3 separate regions of the Homo sapiens genome follow, and regions 1 and 3 are each linked to region 2. Evidence: fine-mapped expression QTL. A gene starts in region 2. Each other region holds a variant in brackets. All regions are shown on one strand. Distances are from middle to middle.

The links. PIP is the estimated chance that this variant, and not a neighbour inherited with it, causes the effect. A credible set is the group of variants that fine-mapping cannot tell apart.
Region 1: its variant is the best candidate, but not a certain one, in a credible set for the expression of AHRR in tibial nerve (GTEx, PIP 0.84).
Region 3: its variant is the best candidate, but not a certain one, in a credible set for the expression of AHRR in whole blood (TOPMed, PIP 0.70).

The regions. Positions count from the first base shown.
Region 1 is chr5:229,368-234,604 of GRCh38, reverse strand. SDHA (succinate dehydrogenase complex flavoprotein subunit A) reads right to left here. Exons shown (of 15, transcript NM_004168.4): 7 at 3,605-3,729; 8 at 960-1,128. Among named protein-coding and RNA genes, the nearest start is that of SDHA, 14 kb to the right of the region's middle. The variant G/T (reference allele first, on the strand shown) is at 2,119.
Region 2 is chr5:318,785-324,021 of GRCh38, reverse strand. AHRR (aryl hydrocarbon receptor repressor) reads right to left here and starts at 2,308. Exons shown (of 11, transcript NM_001377236.1): 1 at 2,203-2,308. The region is part of intron 3 of PDCD6-AHRR (PDCD6-AHRR readthrough (NMD candidate)); the gene reads right to left. RefSeq lists enhancers at 1,297-1,416, 1,505-2,072, 5,206-5,237 and silencers at 1,657-1,716, 1,727-2,106, 2,197-2,686, 2,837-3,096.
Region 3 is chr5:192,440-197,630 of GRCh38, reverse strand. LRRC14B (leucine rich repeat containing 14B) reads right to left here. Exons shown (of 2, transcript NM_001080478.3): 2 at 1,297-2,923. The coding sequence ends at 2,278. CCDC127 (coiled-coil domain containing 127) reads left to right here. Exons shown (of 3, transcript NM_145265.3): 3 at 1-763. It overlaps LOC124900929 (a long non-coding RNA gene), which reads left to right and starts at 2,904. Exons shown (of 2, transcript XR_007058670.1): 1 at 2,904-3,269; 2 at 4,643-4,903. The variant G/A (reference allele first, on the strand shown) is at 2,124.

The DNA.
Region 1 (5,237 bases), 89 kb after region 2:
TGTTACACTGTATTGTTAAGGGAACAATGACAAGGAAAAAAAGTCTGCATATTTGTAAGGATGCAATTTTATTTTCAATACATAGTTGGCTGAAACCACACATGTGGAACCAATGGGTACGGAGGGCCACCATATTCCAAAAAACCATTTGACTTCTCTGTTTTTTTTTTTTTTTTTTTTTTTTTTGAGACAGAGTGTTGCTCTGTCGCCCAGGCTGGAGTGCAGTGGTGTGATCTCAGCTCACTGCAAGCTCCGCCTCCCAGGTTCACGCCATTCTCCTGCCTCAGCCTCCCGAGTAGCTGGGACTACAGGCACCTGCCATCACGCCCGGCTAATTTTTTGTATTTTTAGTAGAGACGGGGTTTCACCGTGTTAGCCAGGATGGTCTCGATCTCCTGACCTCCTGATCTGCCCGCTTCAGCCTCCCAAAGTGCTGGGATTACAGGCGTGAGCCACTGCGCCCCACCTGACTTCTCTGTTTTTTTAATATAAAAATGTAAAACCTCTAAAGGCCATACCAGCAGATATTTAGCAAATGTCATTACATTAAAGAACAGGGTCAGGCAATGAAAGAGCTGCAAACTGTTTTACTGAAAGCCAAATAACCCACACACTTTGAAAGCTGCCAAAAAACATCTGTGGGTATCAGACACAACACCCAAGGCTCACATGCCGACTTCAGGTTGGGTGTGTGTCTCTCTCTCCCATACTCCGTCACATACTCACACACACTAAGAGAAACTCTGTTCCACAGATTTGAGAAAGAAACTGGCTAAAATTTTCAAAATGTAGGTCTTTAGGAAAATATCGCAGACTAACAGACGCCTGCCAGCAGCTAAGAGAGGTGGCTGTGCACATGCGCCTGCACACGAAGGTGAGGGCGAGCGGTGCTGAAACTCACAGAAGCAACCCCGGCCCGTGTGCCCGCTCAGACAGTGCTGGTGGTAAATCACACGCACCTTCCTTCTCGGATCTCCAGAGTCATGGACCGAGACACCACATCTCTAGACGCCAGGTCCTTCGCGACAGGGGCGTATCGCTCCATAAACCTTTCGCCTTGACTGTTAATGAGAATGCCTCCCTCTCCACGACATCCTTCCGTAATGAGACAACCAGCACCATATATGCCTGCAAAAAACCACACATATTTATTACCTAACAATTGCTAGATCTCTATTTCAAATGCATTATTTTTTTCAAGACATTTTTTGGGGGAAAGAGGAAAAAGATAAGCAGAAGGCATTATGTGCAAAACTGCACAGCAAGACAGTTAAGATACAGTAGAAAGTCTGGATAACAAAAAGCACTGACAAGGCTGACAGCTGCAGCAGAGGCTGGGGCAGAGCGGTGTCCCCAGAGAGGAGAAAGGCCGGCCCACAGACCTCTGGCCAATACTCTGATTACAGCCCAGTGTACGTTGGATGCCTCAAATTTTGTTTTAATTTTTGAACATTCTTTTGCACTATGATACTGTGGTGACTAGTTAAGAATACTAGCTTGAAGTATTCATATCTAAATTATCCAAACAGTGACAAGGACAGTAATAATGATTATTTTAGATAATATTTACACTGCACTTGCTATGGGCAGTTCTAGCTGCTTTCCACATATTAACTCGTTTAAGTCTTACAACAACTCTGGGTAGTACGACCCCCTTTCTCAGTGACAAGCAAATTAACACTTGGTAACATCCAGTCATGCAGCTGAGGACAGAGCTCAAACCCAAACCTGGGTAGTCCGGCGGTCTGTGCTCCAAACAGCGGCTCTGTGACTCCTCAGTGCGATGAGAAACAGGGCATGCCAAGCTCTCGAATTTTAACAAAGGAGATCAAAAACCCTAAACTAAATGTATTTCGAAAGCTACAATTTTTATTAGTATACAAAAAGGGCAATCTTGCTTTTAAAAAACGAATGTGATTCTTGTCTGTCTTTTGATTTTCTAAGTTTCAATGCTCTTTTTTCTGTGGTTACTTCTCACATACTGAAGACAAAGCATGAGCAGTGGAGCTCTAAGCAAATTACAGAGGGAATTCAGGGGCTCAGTGACATTTTATTCATTAAAAACAGTAATAAAAAATACAACAGGCCGGGTGCAGTGGCTCATGGCTATAATCCCAG[G/T]ACCCTGAGGGGCCGAGGCAGGAGGATGGCCTAAGCCCTGGAGTTTGAGACCAGCCTGGGCAAAACGGTGACATCCCGTCTCTACCAAAAACGAAAAAACCCTCGAAAATTAGCTGGGCATGGTAACACATGCCTGTAGTCCCAGCTGTTTGGGAGGCTGAGGTGGAAGGATCGTTTGAGCCTGGGAGACAAAGGCTGCAGTGAGTCAAGATTGCTCCACTGCACTCCAGCCTGAGCAACAGAGCAAGACCCCATCTCGAAACAAATAAAAAAAAAACACTACAACAAATTCATTTCTTATTTTCATCCCTTCCAGGGATCAGAAAGCTGACACTGACAGAGAAAGAGAAGACACAGGTCTGGTTCTTTGGCACCACTTCAGAGGTCTCCATCGTCCACAGGTCAGAAAAGCAACCCAGAAAAGTATAGGACAAGTCACCTCAAACAAGAGGCAGGTGTGTGTCTGTCTCTGACTCATTCTGAAGAACCTCCTCCAAACTCAAGACTTCAACTGTCATTTCTGAGTTAATGTCTCCGAATTGCACATTCGTAACCTCAACCGTCAGACGTCCCCAAGACGAGCTCATCTTCCCCACGACAAGCTCTCTCAGTGGTCACGTGGGCTGAGCCCAGCGCCCAATGTCACATGGGGTTCTGTCACGGCTGCGTCCTAACTTTACATCCCATTGTCACAGAAGCTCCGTGTTCTCCTACAAAGCTGAAGTCTGCCTGTGCTGCTTCTCGGTTCCATGGCATTCTCCCAGCTCTCAGAATGTTCACTCAGTAAACCCCGGTGGAGACCCTACCATGTGCTGGGCATGGAGCACCACAGCTAACGAGAAGACCTGCCTGCCCGAGGAGCTGACGACCTCGTTGCGAAGAGGGACACTGAACAATCCCTGCTTTACTTTTTTTTTTTTTTTTTTTGAGACGGAGTCTTACTCTGTTGCCCAGGCTGGAGTGCAGTGGCGCGATCTCGGCTCACTGCAACCTCTGCCTCCCAGGTTCAAGCATTCCTCCCACCTCAGCCTCCCAAGTACCTGGGATTACAGGTACACGCCATCACGCCCAGCTGATTTTTGTATTTTTAGTAGAGACGAGGTGTCACCATGTTGGTCAGGCTGGTCTCGAACTCCTGACCTCAGGTGATCCGCCCGCCTTGGCCTCCTAAAGTGCTGGGACTACAGGAGTGAGCCACTGTGCTCGGCCTCAATCCCTGCTTTACTGCTGGCTTAAGTATCACCAAGGCAGGGTTTAGCGCTCTTGAGAAATACATAAGACGGTGGCCCAAACTGCCTTAGGGGAAGGGGAGTGTGGGAAAAGTCTCCTTAGGTAAATGACGTTGAAGTTAGGACCTGAGAGCTGAGGAAGCTGATCTTCAAAACCATGTTATTACATAAAACTATGGAAGAGCAATGAGTAGGCATCACATGCTTACAAGACACACACAAGCCAAACACCTGCCGGGCAAGGCGTCCTGCCCTACCTGTAGGGTGGAACTGAACAAACTCTAGGTCCTGGCAAGGAAGGCCTGCCCTGGTGATCATGGCCGTGCCGTCGCCAGTGCTGGTGTGGGCAGACGTGCAGCTGAAGTAGGTGCGCCCGTAGCCTCTGGAAACAATAGAGAGCAGTGACTGCACACAGCGGCCCACATCTGGACCTCCTATCTGGTGAGATCACAGAATGGACACGGCAGCCCCCAGCACCGTCTTCTCAGTGCTGTGCACACACAACCCCCTACTCACGCACACCCCACACATATCACTAGGGGCCGCGCCACTGGTGCTGCTACCCTGCACAGGTAGGATAGAAGCCTGGGATCAAAGAAAGGACTTCCATTTGTATTTTATTTATTTATTTTGAGATAGGATCTAACTCTGTTGACCAGGCTGGAGTAGAGTGGTGCGATCTCGGCTCACAGCAACCTCCGGCTCCCAGGTTCAAGTGATTCTTCCGCCTCAGCCTCCCGAGTAGCTGGGATTACAGTGTGCACCACCACGCCCAGTTAATTTTTGTATTTTTAGTAGAGATGGGGTTTCACCATGTTGGCCAGGCTGGTCTCGAACTCCTGACCTCAAGTGATCCTCCCACTTTGGCCTCCCAAAGTGCCGGGATTACAGGCGTGAGCCACTGCACACCTGGCCCTATTTGTATTTTAGCTTTGTGCTGTTCAAAAGGTTTCCCCAATAAGCATATACTACTTTTATAATGAAAATTTTAAAATTTTTATGGATTTTTTTCTCCCCCAGATTTACTGAGGTATGATTGATGAATTTAAAAAAAAAACTATATATTTATGGTGTACAGCGTGATGATTTATTTTGTGAAATGATGACACAATCAAGTTAATACACATCTATCACCTCATACAATTATCCTTTTTTTGGAGATACAGACGCCTAACGTCTACTATCTTCGCAAATTTCAAGTTATAATATTAACGATAGCCACCATGCTGTATAATATTAACTCTAGCCACCATGCTGTATAATGTTAACTCTAGCCACCATGCTGTATAATATTAACGATAGCCACCATGCTGTATATTAACTCTAGCCACCGTGCTGTATAATGTTAACTCTGGCCACCATGCTGTATAATGTTAACTCTGGCCACCATGCTGTATAATGTTAACGATAGCCAGCATGCTGTATAATGTTAACTCTAGCCACCATGCTGTATAATGTTAACTCTAGCCACCATGCTGTATAATGTTAACTCTAACCACCATGCTGTATAATGTTAACTATAGCCACCATGCTGTATAATGTTAACTCTGGCCACCATGCTGTATAATGTTAACTATAGCCACCATGTTGTATATTAGACCTTCAGAACTTCACCTTGTAACGGGAAGTTACACCTTTAATCAGCATCGCCACAGTCTGCATTCCCCCAGCCCCTGGCAACCACTGTCCTACTCTGTTTCTGTGAGTTGTGACTGTTTTAGATTCCACATGAGTGACATGCAGTATCTGTCTTTCTGTGCCTGGCTCGTTTCACTTAACATAATGACTTTGGGTTCATCCACGTTGTCACACATGACAGGATTTCCTTCATTTTCATAGCCGAATAATATTCAGTTGTGTATACACACCACATTGTCATTAAACACCAAC
Region 2 (5,237 bases):
AAGAAAGAAAGAAAGAGAAAAAAAGAAAGGAAGGTAGGAAGGAAGGAGGGAAGGAAGAGCGAGCTAGGCAAGGTGTTTCAGGGCCGCCAAGTCTTTCCTACCCGAGTCATCAGCCCCTAGCAGATCGGCCTGTTCATTCCTGCCTGTCTGTGAGCCGACTCTCCTCCGCAAGGAGCTCCGTTGAGTCTCCTTCAATGCCTGATCACCCCAGACCACATGGCGCTTTCCCGCTTCTGTGTCGTATTAACCACTTAACACTGGTCAGGGCCACCCGGCGGCATCTCTCCAACTGCATTGCAAATGACGACGGCTGGAACCACAGCTGCCTCCCCCTCCCCCGGCGTCTCAGCACCCAGCACGGGTGAACGAGGTGGGAAGACCCTGTTAAGCCACAAGCCGTCTCCCTCTGATCACAAGGCCTGCTCCCGGGAACACCAGGCCACATGAAGGAGGGGCCTCACAGTTGCAGGAAATAAATAATTTGGCACAAGGATCAAGATAAAGTAGTTTGAGAAACAGTTGCTGATAATACTTTAGAGAAAAGCCTCGCGGAGTTCAGGTGGTCACCTGAGCATATCTGAACTTCCTGGCCCTACTGGCAGAGATGCGAGGGGGTGGCAGGGAAGTGTGTCTCAGTTCTTGCCATACCTAGCCTAAATACAGGAGGAGGGATGCTATTACAATAGGTTGTTCCATTTTACAAAATACTCATGAACTCACCTCAACAGATGGAGCCTCCTTTGGACTGGACCAAACTCCCCACAGAAATGCCCCTGTGAGGCAAGACTCAGCTGTCCCCGGCCTCCTGACGGCAGCGTTCTTCTCTGCCTGGGACACAGGTCGAAGCTGCCTCATAGGTAATTGGGGGACAGGGGAGGACCCTACCCACTGCAGCCAGGGGCTCAGCCGGGGACCACGGGTGGGGCCTCGACAGACTCCTGGGTGCTGCTCACGGGCAGGTCCCACACGGGACAGAGGGGTCGGCCAGGGCCATCTGGGGCCTCCCAACCCCACCAGGCTGTGAGCTGACAGCACTCCTCTGAGAAATCTGAATTTTTCTAAGAACCTTTCTCCCGTGGTAAAACTCGTGTCTGTTCATTTTAGAGAATACAGATAAGTAAGAAAACGAAAATAAAAGCCGTTCCCCAGGCGGTGGCGTCCCCCCCGTCGAAGCGGCTCCCCAGGCGGCGGCGTCCGCCGGGTCAGCATCCTACGTTCTCCAGTTCTTGTTACTCGTGGCTTTTCAGCGACTCTGGGGCCGCATCGAGCCCCGGCTTTGTGCGGGATGGGTATGGCACACTCGGCCCGAGTCCAAACGCCGCCAGTCACTTGCTCTGAGAGGCTGGATGAGCGACCTACCTTGATGTCCTCGTTCGTAAAATGGGTGACGGTTGCCAGGCCGGGGCGGCTGTGAGGCCCCGTGGGGGTGGCGTTTGGAGAACGCGCGCACACGCCCACCCTTCTGCAAGAACCCCGCAGACGAGAGCCTGTGCGCGCGCACAGGAGGCCCAGGGAGGAAGCCCCTCCCCGCCTGCCCTTGCCATCCCGGAGGCCACAGCCGGACAGGCCCGTGGGACAGGCCCGTGGGACGCTTCTGCACAAGGTCTCTGACCTCCGGCCTCGCAGAAGAGGTCAGAGGGTGGCCCCTGCCTGTCACGCGCCCATGGCGACCCCTCCCCAGAAGGGGTCCCAGCGTGGACTCCAGGCGCCACATCGCTCTCTCAGGGCATCCGGTCTGGGAATTCTGGCCGCTCAAAATAAGACTTCAGCGCTACTGGGTGCTACTGAAACCAAGCCTGAACATGGGCCTTTCCCGGGGGTGAGGCCCCCCGGACCTGGCGCCCTCGGCCCGACAGCGGGGCCCCGCTCCGCCGCCCGCACCCGCCCAGCCCCAGGGAGCGCGGCCCGCACGGAACGCCCGGGGAGTGAAGGCTCAGAACACTCTCGAGGGGACGCTGAGGACCACGAACCGTGGACGCGCCGCGGCTTCCCTCCGAGGTCCGAGTTTTAAGTGAGACCAGCCAGCCGCACCCCAGAGTGTCCGCCCCGTCCCGGGGCCGCCGGGCCTGGCGACGCGAGGATGCGGCGTGAGGAGGGTCCCGACGCCGGCGCCCGTCCCTCAGCCCCACACCCGGGAGCGCATCCCGTCTCCACCGCGGGCGGCACGCGGCGGGGGCCTGCGGGGGCGCCCAGGACACTTACCCAGGGCCTGCGGGGCGCGGAGGCTCAGGCACACCCGCGGGGCAGCGCGCCCTGGCCAGGAGCTGTGGCGGCGGGTGCCGGCGCTCGCATCCCGGGAACCCGCGGCGGCTCCAGGGACTGCCCCACCCCGGCACGCGAGCCGCCCGCCCCGCCCCGCAGCATCCAGGGCCGGGAGGCGGCAGAGGGCGCCCGCGGGTCCGGCTGTCTCGGGTCCGGCTGCCCCAGCTGCCCTGGCGAACCGGAGACGCCATCCGGTTCCCCTGGGGTCCGCCCTGCGCCCTTCGCGTCCCAGTGATCCCCCGGAGTCTCCGTGCCCCGAGGCGGGGGTCGCGCGCTGAGCCCCTCCAGGCCCTGCGTTCCCCCTGGGGTCTGTGTGCGCCCAGGGTCCCCCGGTTCTCCCTGCGCCCCCGTCCCCTCCCCAGCGCTCGCGGCCGGCTGTGCTGAGCTGCCGGCCCTAGAGCCGGGCGGTGTAGACCCGAACAGGTAAAGTGAGGAGAGCGTGTGCCCCCTCGCCTGCCCCATGAGGTCGTTTCGAAAATGTAAAAGGAGTCATGGTTTTTGGCGAATTATAGAGAATATTAAGATGCTTTTGGATCCTGAGCTTCCCAGGAAGCGGACGCGCGCCAGGCACGGCAGGGTCGTCCGTGCGACGTTCTTCGTCCTGGGCATTTCAGGGTCCCACGCGGCAGGTGTGCGGCCCTGGGTGCCCCTGCCCCGCCCACCCCGCCGGTCGGCACCCGGGACCGCGCGGCCGAGAGCAGGGTCCTGCCTGCAGGTCCTTAGGGCTCACCCCGCGCCCTCTGCGCGCCCGCCGGCCCCTCCGACCTCGGGCTGCGCCTTCTCCTTCCCCCTCCCGGTGGTCCTTGGCCCCCTCTAGTCCTCCGTCCGGGCGCGCAGGCCCTGGCTGAATTCCCTGTACCCTCAGGGGATCCCTGGGGACACCTCAGCCTGGCCTCGCACCCTGACGTCTCCACAGACCCTGGCCGGCTTCCACCCGTTCTCGCCCTCGCTGGGGCCGGCCATGGAGTCGGTGGTCCCTGGAGTCCGCTCCTCAGCATCCGCGGTCCTCATCCCAGCCGGGGGAACCGCGCCCTCTTCATCCCGCAAGGTCGGTTTTCAGCAACGCGGCCGAGGCTGTCACTGGCGCCCCCAGGTTCTCAGTCAAACCCCGTCTCCCTGACGCCCCCAACCCGCCCCGCGCCTCCTGCTGTTCTCTGAATAAGGCGTGCGGGCCTTGGGGCCTTTGCACTCGCTGTCTGCTGTCGGCTCAGGAAAAGTCTCTTTTCCAGACACAGCTCCCAAGGTGGGGTGGGCGCAGCTGAGAAGCCCACCCTGCCCCCAAGTGGCCACCGCCCCTCCCCGGGTGTAGCTCCTGCAGGGCAGCCCAGAATTGCTGAGTTCTGCCGCTCTGTCCCCAGGGGTCACCAAGTCGGCTCTGCTCACCTCTGGTTCCTGTCGAATAGCAGAGGCTCAAAAATGTGAGCTGAGTAAATGGGCTTTTTTGGGACAGAGTCTTGCTTTGTCACCCAGGCCTGAGAGCAGTGGTGCGATCTCAGTTCACTGCAGCCTCTGCCTCCAGGGCTCAAGCGATTCTCGTGCCTCAGCCTCCCAAGTAGCTGGGATTACAGTCGCGCGCCACCACACCTGGCTAATTTTTTTTTTTTTTTAAGTAGATAGTGGTTTTGCCATCTTGGCCAGGCTGGTCTCGAACTCCTGACCTCAGGTGATCCACCCACCTCGGCTTGCCAAAGTGTTGGGATTACAGGCATGAGCCACTATGCCACTGAGACAGCCAGGAGCCCTGGGTGCACACATTTATTTTTTGATATGGAACAATGTGCAACTATATTGCTGTATTTTTAAAAATCATTAGTTTTATCTTGATCCAATTTTTGTAAAGTGAATTATGCACAGAAAATGTGTAGCTGGATAACTCTGAGGTAACAGGTGAACTTTAATTTCTTTTTACTTTTTGAAAAGTCTACAATTCCTGTAAATTTTTGCAAGAAGCACATAGTACCTTTGTGATCTGTTAAAATAAGAACCTGTGGGTAGAATGTGATGGTGGTGAGCCGCAGTCCCCCTGCATGGGAAGACAGCACCCCCATGTCTCAGGGCAAGCACGGGTTCCCTTCCACCTACCCTGTCCCACCAGAACCAACTGGAATGAGACACTTTGTTACTCTATTTCCTGGGTACAGAAGGAAACTGCTCCTCCTTCCTTCCCACTGCCCTTGACCGGCACAGGCCATCCACGCCCACCTGTCCCCTGTGCTTGTCCCCAAAGTCTCAGGTCTCTGCAGGACCTGGGGCAGCCAGTGGGACTGTGCAGAAAAAGGATGACCCTGCCGTGGGAGCCACTGCCCCTAAAGTCTCAGGGTTTAGCAGGCAGAGCCCCACGTGGAGTCCTGGAGTCTCTGGGCACCCCACCAGCACAATGGGGGATCCCTGAGCCACCTCCCGTTCAGACGGGCTATTGGGCGTGCCTCCCTCCCCACCACGAAGGTCCAGATGCAGCTGACACCCCCAGTCACAGAGTCTCCTTTCTGCCTCTGTGCTGGGGACCCTGTTCAGGAGGTCTCCTCCCTCCAGTCCGGACTTGCTGTCCCCAGTGTCATTGAACCCTCTGGCTCCCACCCACACTCCCAGCAGCTGGAGACACACCCCTTTCTCCTGGGCCACTGGTCCTCTCGGGACTCTGAACCAGAGGCGCTAACACCTGGCAGGGATGGCAGCTGGGGCAGGACTGGAAGCCTCCGAGGACCCACCCCCAGCTCCGGGTACCCCCACACTGGAGTCTGGTGCGGTGGGTCCCCAGAGCCATATGAGCTGGACTTGGCCTCCAGTGGACCGCCACATGGCAGGTGCCCACGGCCGGCTGCAGCGCCAGGCCCCTCCCAAACAGGCCCAAGTTGGCTTCACAGAAGTGTGGGGGCAAAGCTGCTCTTCATGGGCCTCCAGGAGTGGTGACTGTGACTGCCCCCTCCTGTCCTCTCCTGGCCACACCTTTGCCTCCCACAGGCAGGCCAGGTCAG
Region 3 (5,191 bases), 130 kb after region 2:
GAGCTCACAAAAACATGTGTTGTATGAAATCAAGGTTTAAGGGATCTAGGGCTGTGCAGGACGTGCCTTGTTAACAAAATGTTTACAAGCAGTATGCTTGGTAAAAGTCATCGCTATTCTCTAGTCTCAATAAACCAGAGGCACAATGCACTGCGGAAAGCCGCAGGGACCTCTGCCCTTGAAAGCCGGGTATTGTCCACGGTTTCTCCCCATGTGATAGTCTGAAATATGGCCTCGTGGAATGAGAAAGACCTGACCGTCCCCCAGCCCGACACCCGTAAAGGGTCTGTGCTGACATGGGTTAGTAAAAGACGAAAGCCTCTTGCAGTTGAGAGAGAGAAGTCCACTGTCTCCTGCTCGCCGCTGGGAACTGAATGTCGCGGTGTAAAACCCGATTGTACATTTGTTCAACTCTGAGACAGGAGAAAAGCCGCCTTGTGGCGGGAGGCGAGACATGTTTGCGGCAATGCTGCCTTGTTATTCTTTACTCTGCTGAGATGTTTGGGTGGAGAGAAACATAAATCTGGCCTACGTGCACGTCCAGGCATAGTACCTTCCCTTGAACTTAATTACGACATAGATTCTTTTGCTCACACGTTTTTGCTGACCTCCTCCTTATTATCACCCTGCTCTCCTACTACATTCCTTTTTGCTGAAATAATGAAAATAATAATAAAAACTGAGGGAACTCAGAGGCCGGTGCCAGTGCAGGTCCTTGGTATGCTGAGCGCCGGTCCCCTGGGCCCACTGTTGTTTCTCTATACTTTGTGTCTTACTTCTTTTCTCAGTCTCTCGTCCCACCCAACTAGAAATACCCACAGGTGTGGAGGGGCAGGCCACCCCTTCACAGCGGGGGTGGGGACACACCTGGAGTGGGGTGACATGGGGGCCCCTGGGGTGGGGACACACCTGGAGTGGGGTGACATGGGGGCCCCTGGGGTGGGGACACACTCGGGGGGGGGTGACACAGGGGCCATTGGGGTGAGGACACACTCCGGGAGGGGGTGACACAGGGCAGCAGGGGTGGGGGCACACCTGGGGAGGGGGTGACACGGGGCCCCCTGGGGTGGGGACACACTCGGGGTGACATGGGGGCCCCCGGGTTGGGGACACACTCGGGGAGGGGGTGACACCTGAGGAGGGGATGACATGGGGCCCCTGGGGTGGGGACACACCCGTGGTGGGCGCTGTCATGAGGTGTGACTTTTGAGCGGAGCCATGGACACACAGTGACTCAGATCCCTGGTTTTGGGTCTGAGAACGACTTAACCACACCAAGCACTGACCTGTCTGAACTGCACTGAAAGACGCATTTTATTTGCATTTAGTTATTCTAGTGCTCAGCCATTTCTTTGCACAAAGTCACTCTTGGTGGACACCAAGTCCAAATGTGTCTTAGGTGGTTGTCAGCTCCTCCAGGGGCTGGTCAAGTGCTAGACCTTCAATTAAACACCCGGAATAGCTCCCGTCAGTCTAAGCCTCAAGCCCCGCAGGACACAGTGAATGTTGGTGAGAAACAGTGGCGCGGTCGGGCAAAGGCCTCCCCGCAGCGCTGACCGCCCTGGTCCAGGCGGCTCTTCAGCGGACGCCTGTGCTCACCCACTCGGATGCCCCTCACGGTTCTGGGGGCTACACAAAGTGAGAAGAAAAGCCACCACTAACAGCAACCAGAAGCCCCGCGTTCCCTGCAGGCCCACCTCATCCCGTAAGCGGCAGGTCCAGACAGCGGGTTGTGACCAGCAGTGGGTGGGAGCCTCCTGCTGGAGGAAGCAGGGTCCGGTTTGCTGTTCATTTTTCGCCTCTTTTTCTCGGTTGTTTTTCATGGGCTGCTTATTTTGTGCAGTTTCTGTGATGTGTTCTCTCTTCCCCTCCCCCTCCCTGCTGTGGAGCCCAGTCACATCTGCCCCCTGAAGCTTCATCTTGCGCCCAGTGCCCAGATGCGCTGAGGCCAGGTCGGCCACTCCTCACACCTCCCGGGCTTCTCTGCTCTTTGCCATGTGGCGTCTGCCCCCGCTGACCCTGTCACTGTCTCTTGGTGGCTTCCCCCGCCTCCAGAACCTTGCCGTGCTGCCACTAAAGGGCACCGCATGGCACCTCTCCTGGAAGGCTTCCTCTTCTACAAC[G/A]CTTAACAGGCTCGCCTACAATTTTCACTAAGAACTGCTTTTGGTGGTGGTGGTGGTGGGGATGAATGCCGGGCCCAAGCCTCAGATCCAGGACTAAAGCCCGGGGCACCTGCAGGCTGAAATGCAAGACCTGTCACTGGTGCGAGTGGAGGAACTACTCTATTTGTTTGAGTGCTCTGGAGAAGTTTTCTAGAGCAGTTTTGAAAGCTTGCAGCAAGAAAGCACCAAGCTCATTGCTTGTTTCTTGAATGTCTGGGTCAAAACTTCCAAAGAGAGGTGTGGAGACTTGGATGTCCTCTCGGTCAGCCCGCAGCAGCACGGCACGCAGCTCCTCGGCGATCTCGTCGTATTTCTGCTGGTTGAACTTGGACATGGCCAGCTCGTCCTGTGGGTAGGCGGCACCCTCGGGGTAGCAGTCCTTGGGCACCGGGAACTCAATGCAGCGCAGCTCGGGGAGCTCACAGAGTGCGGTGAAGAGGCGCCGGAGGGCGCGGGCCGACAGCGGGTTCCCGAGGAACTTGAGCTGGCGCAGCCGGTGGCAGGGGCTCAGGCCCAGGATCAGCATGCCAACGTGGCTGTCTACGATGCCACACTCCTCCAGTGTCAGGATCCTCAGCGTCCGGGAAGCCTGGCTGAGCAGCCTGAAGAAGGTCGAGGGGTACAGGCTGACCAGGTTGTGTCCACTGAGGTCCAGCACCTCCAGGTGGGCAGCGTGGGCACAGTCTGCCAAGAAGGCCATGTCCGTGTGGTTCAGGGCACAGTTGGCCAGGTCCAGTACTCGCAGCGGGGTCTGTAGGGGGCTGCAGGACACGGGGGAAAGAGCACAGGTGAGAGGAGGGTCCCAGGAAGGAGCCGAGGGCTCAGGCGAATGGGAACAACCCATTTGTCCATCATGGGGTCAACACACAGTCACGTCCAACCACCGCCTAATTTCATACAGCCTATGAGCTAGGAGTGGTTGTTATATTTATATAATAGTTTGTGAAACGTGAAAAGTTACATGATATTCAAACTCGGTGTCCATAAATAACATTTTACCAGAGCACAACCACGTGCATTCGCTTAGTGTTGGCCATGACTGCCGGCCGCCACGTGGTGAAGTCAGCTATACCCAGAGGTCTGGCTTTTGTCCTCAGCACCTAAATGGTAAGTTTGTTTTGTCAACAGCTGCTTTTGTGTTGTCTGAGAAAAGTGATGCATGTGACCACGAGAACGTCCACTCAGAAAGTGGACGGGGTGGGGCAGTGAGACCACAGGACAGAATGTCAGCTCAGAAAGCAGACGGCGGGGGGCAGTGAGACCACAGGACAGAATGTCTGCTCAGAAAGCAGACGGCGGGGGGCAGTGAGACCACAGGACAGTGCCGCTCCACTCTGACAAAGATGAATCCCGCATGGTTTCAGAGCTGGGAAGGGCCATGGAGGCTTCCAGTACAGCCTTTGACTCACCTGGGAACCCTAAAGACCCCCCAACTTGCCCCACATCCCATATTCTGACTTGGTTGGTGTAGGGCAGCCTAGCTCTAATACAGGGGCAGTTGGAGTGAGACCTACTCTGGTTCTGAGCTAAGGGAGATCTCCAGAGCAGAACTGCATCGGGACATGGCCTCACTGTCCTCGCTGAGCCGGGGGACACAGCTGGGGTCTGCCCCATCCCAACCCTCTCCTTAGGAGGCTGCCTCACTCTTCACCCACCTGCACCTGCACCCACCTGCATGTCCCGCCCAGGACATGTCCCTCCCCACCCAGGACTGGGACCACTGCCAGGTGCCCCTGTCCCACCTGAGAAACCACGCCAGGCATGCCCCCTGCCCAAGGTCCCACCGCAGGGCACCTCTATCCCTCAGGACCCACCGCAGGGCACCCCCATCCTTCAGGACCCACCGCCAGGCATCCCCCACCAGGATCTACTGCCTGGTGCCACCCCAGGACCCACAGCCAGCCACCCCCCACCCCAGGACTCACCACCAGGTGCCCCCACTTCAGGACCCACCACCAGGCACCCCTACCACCGCCAGGCACTTCTCCCCAAAACCCACTGCCAAACGCCCCACCAGGACCCACTGCCATGTGCCCCCAGCCCCCAGAACCCACCGCCAGGCACCCCCCAGCACCTGAGGACCCACCTCTAGGTGCTTCCCCAGTACCTACCAGGCACCCCTTCCCCCTAGACCCACTGCCAGGTCCCACCCCCAGGACCCAAAACTGGGTGCCCCCCGGACCCACCGCTAGGTTGCCCCACCAGGACCCATCACCCGGTGACCCCAATACCCACCGCCAGCTGCCCCTCCTTCAGGACCCACCACCAGGCTCCCTCCCAGCACCCATTGCCAGGCACCCCGTTCCCCAGGACCCATCACTGGGCACCCCCCTTGGACCCACCGCTAGGCACTCCCCCTCCAGGATCCACTGCTGGGCACCCCCCTTGGACCCACCGCCGGGCATCCCCCTCACCACTGCCTGAGGCTGCCTTGGCCTGGCCCCTTCCTAGCTGCTGCCCTCTCTGCCTCCTTCACGCAGATCTGCTGAGAGGATCCTGCATAAGCCTCCTGTCCCACCATGGGGAGGTCCATGCAGCATGGAGCCCAGGCCTCCCTCGAGGGAGACTGGGAGGATCCCGCCCTGTCAGGCCTTCGGATGAGATGGCACCCTTGGCCAACAGCAGCCCTGAGCCAAAGGCACCGACAGGCTCAGATTTCTGAGCTGAAATCGTGTTTGCTGTTTGAAGCCCCCAAGTGTTGGGGTGAGTCGTTCATCAACAATAGACAACTCCTCACACCACGTAGGCACTTCTGTTTCGTCTGTTTGGTAATTTCCGTATTCTCTTTTTTTAACTGGCATTCTCTCCACATCCCTAAGTCACACATGGCAGCCCGCTTCTTTCCTGGTGGCTCTGACTTTCGGTGCTCTTGCCCCTTGGCGGGGCCGCTGTCCTGTGGCTGTGGCCACACCCGGAGTGAGAGGCTGGAGGCCGTGTAGCCTCATGGCCTTGGACATGAGCAGGCCCCTGGACGATCTCTCCTTGCCTCTGCAGCCACCAGCCCGCCCTCAGTCCCCTCCCCAAGACTC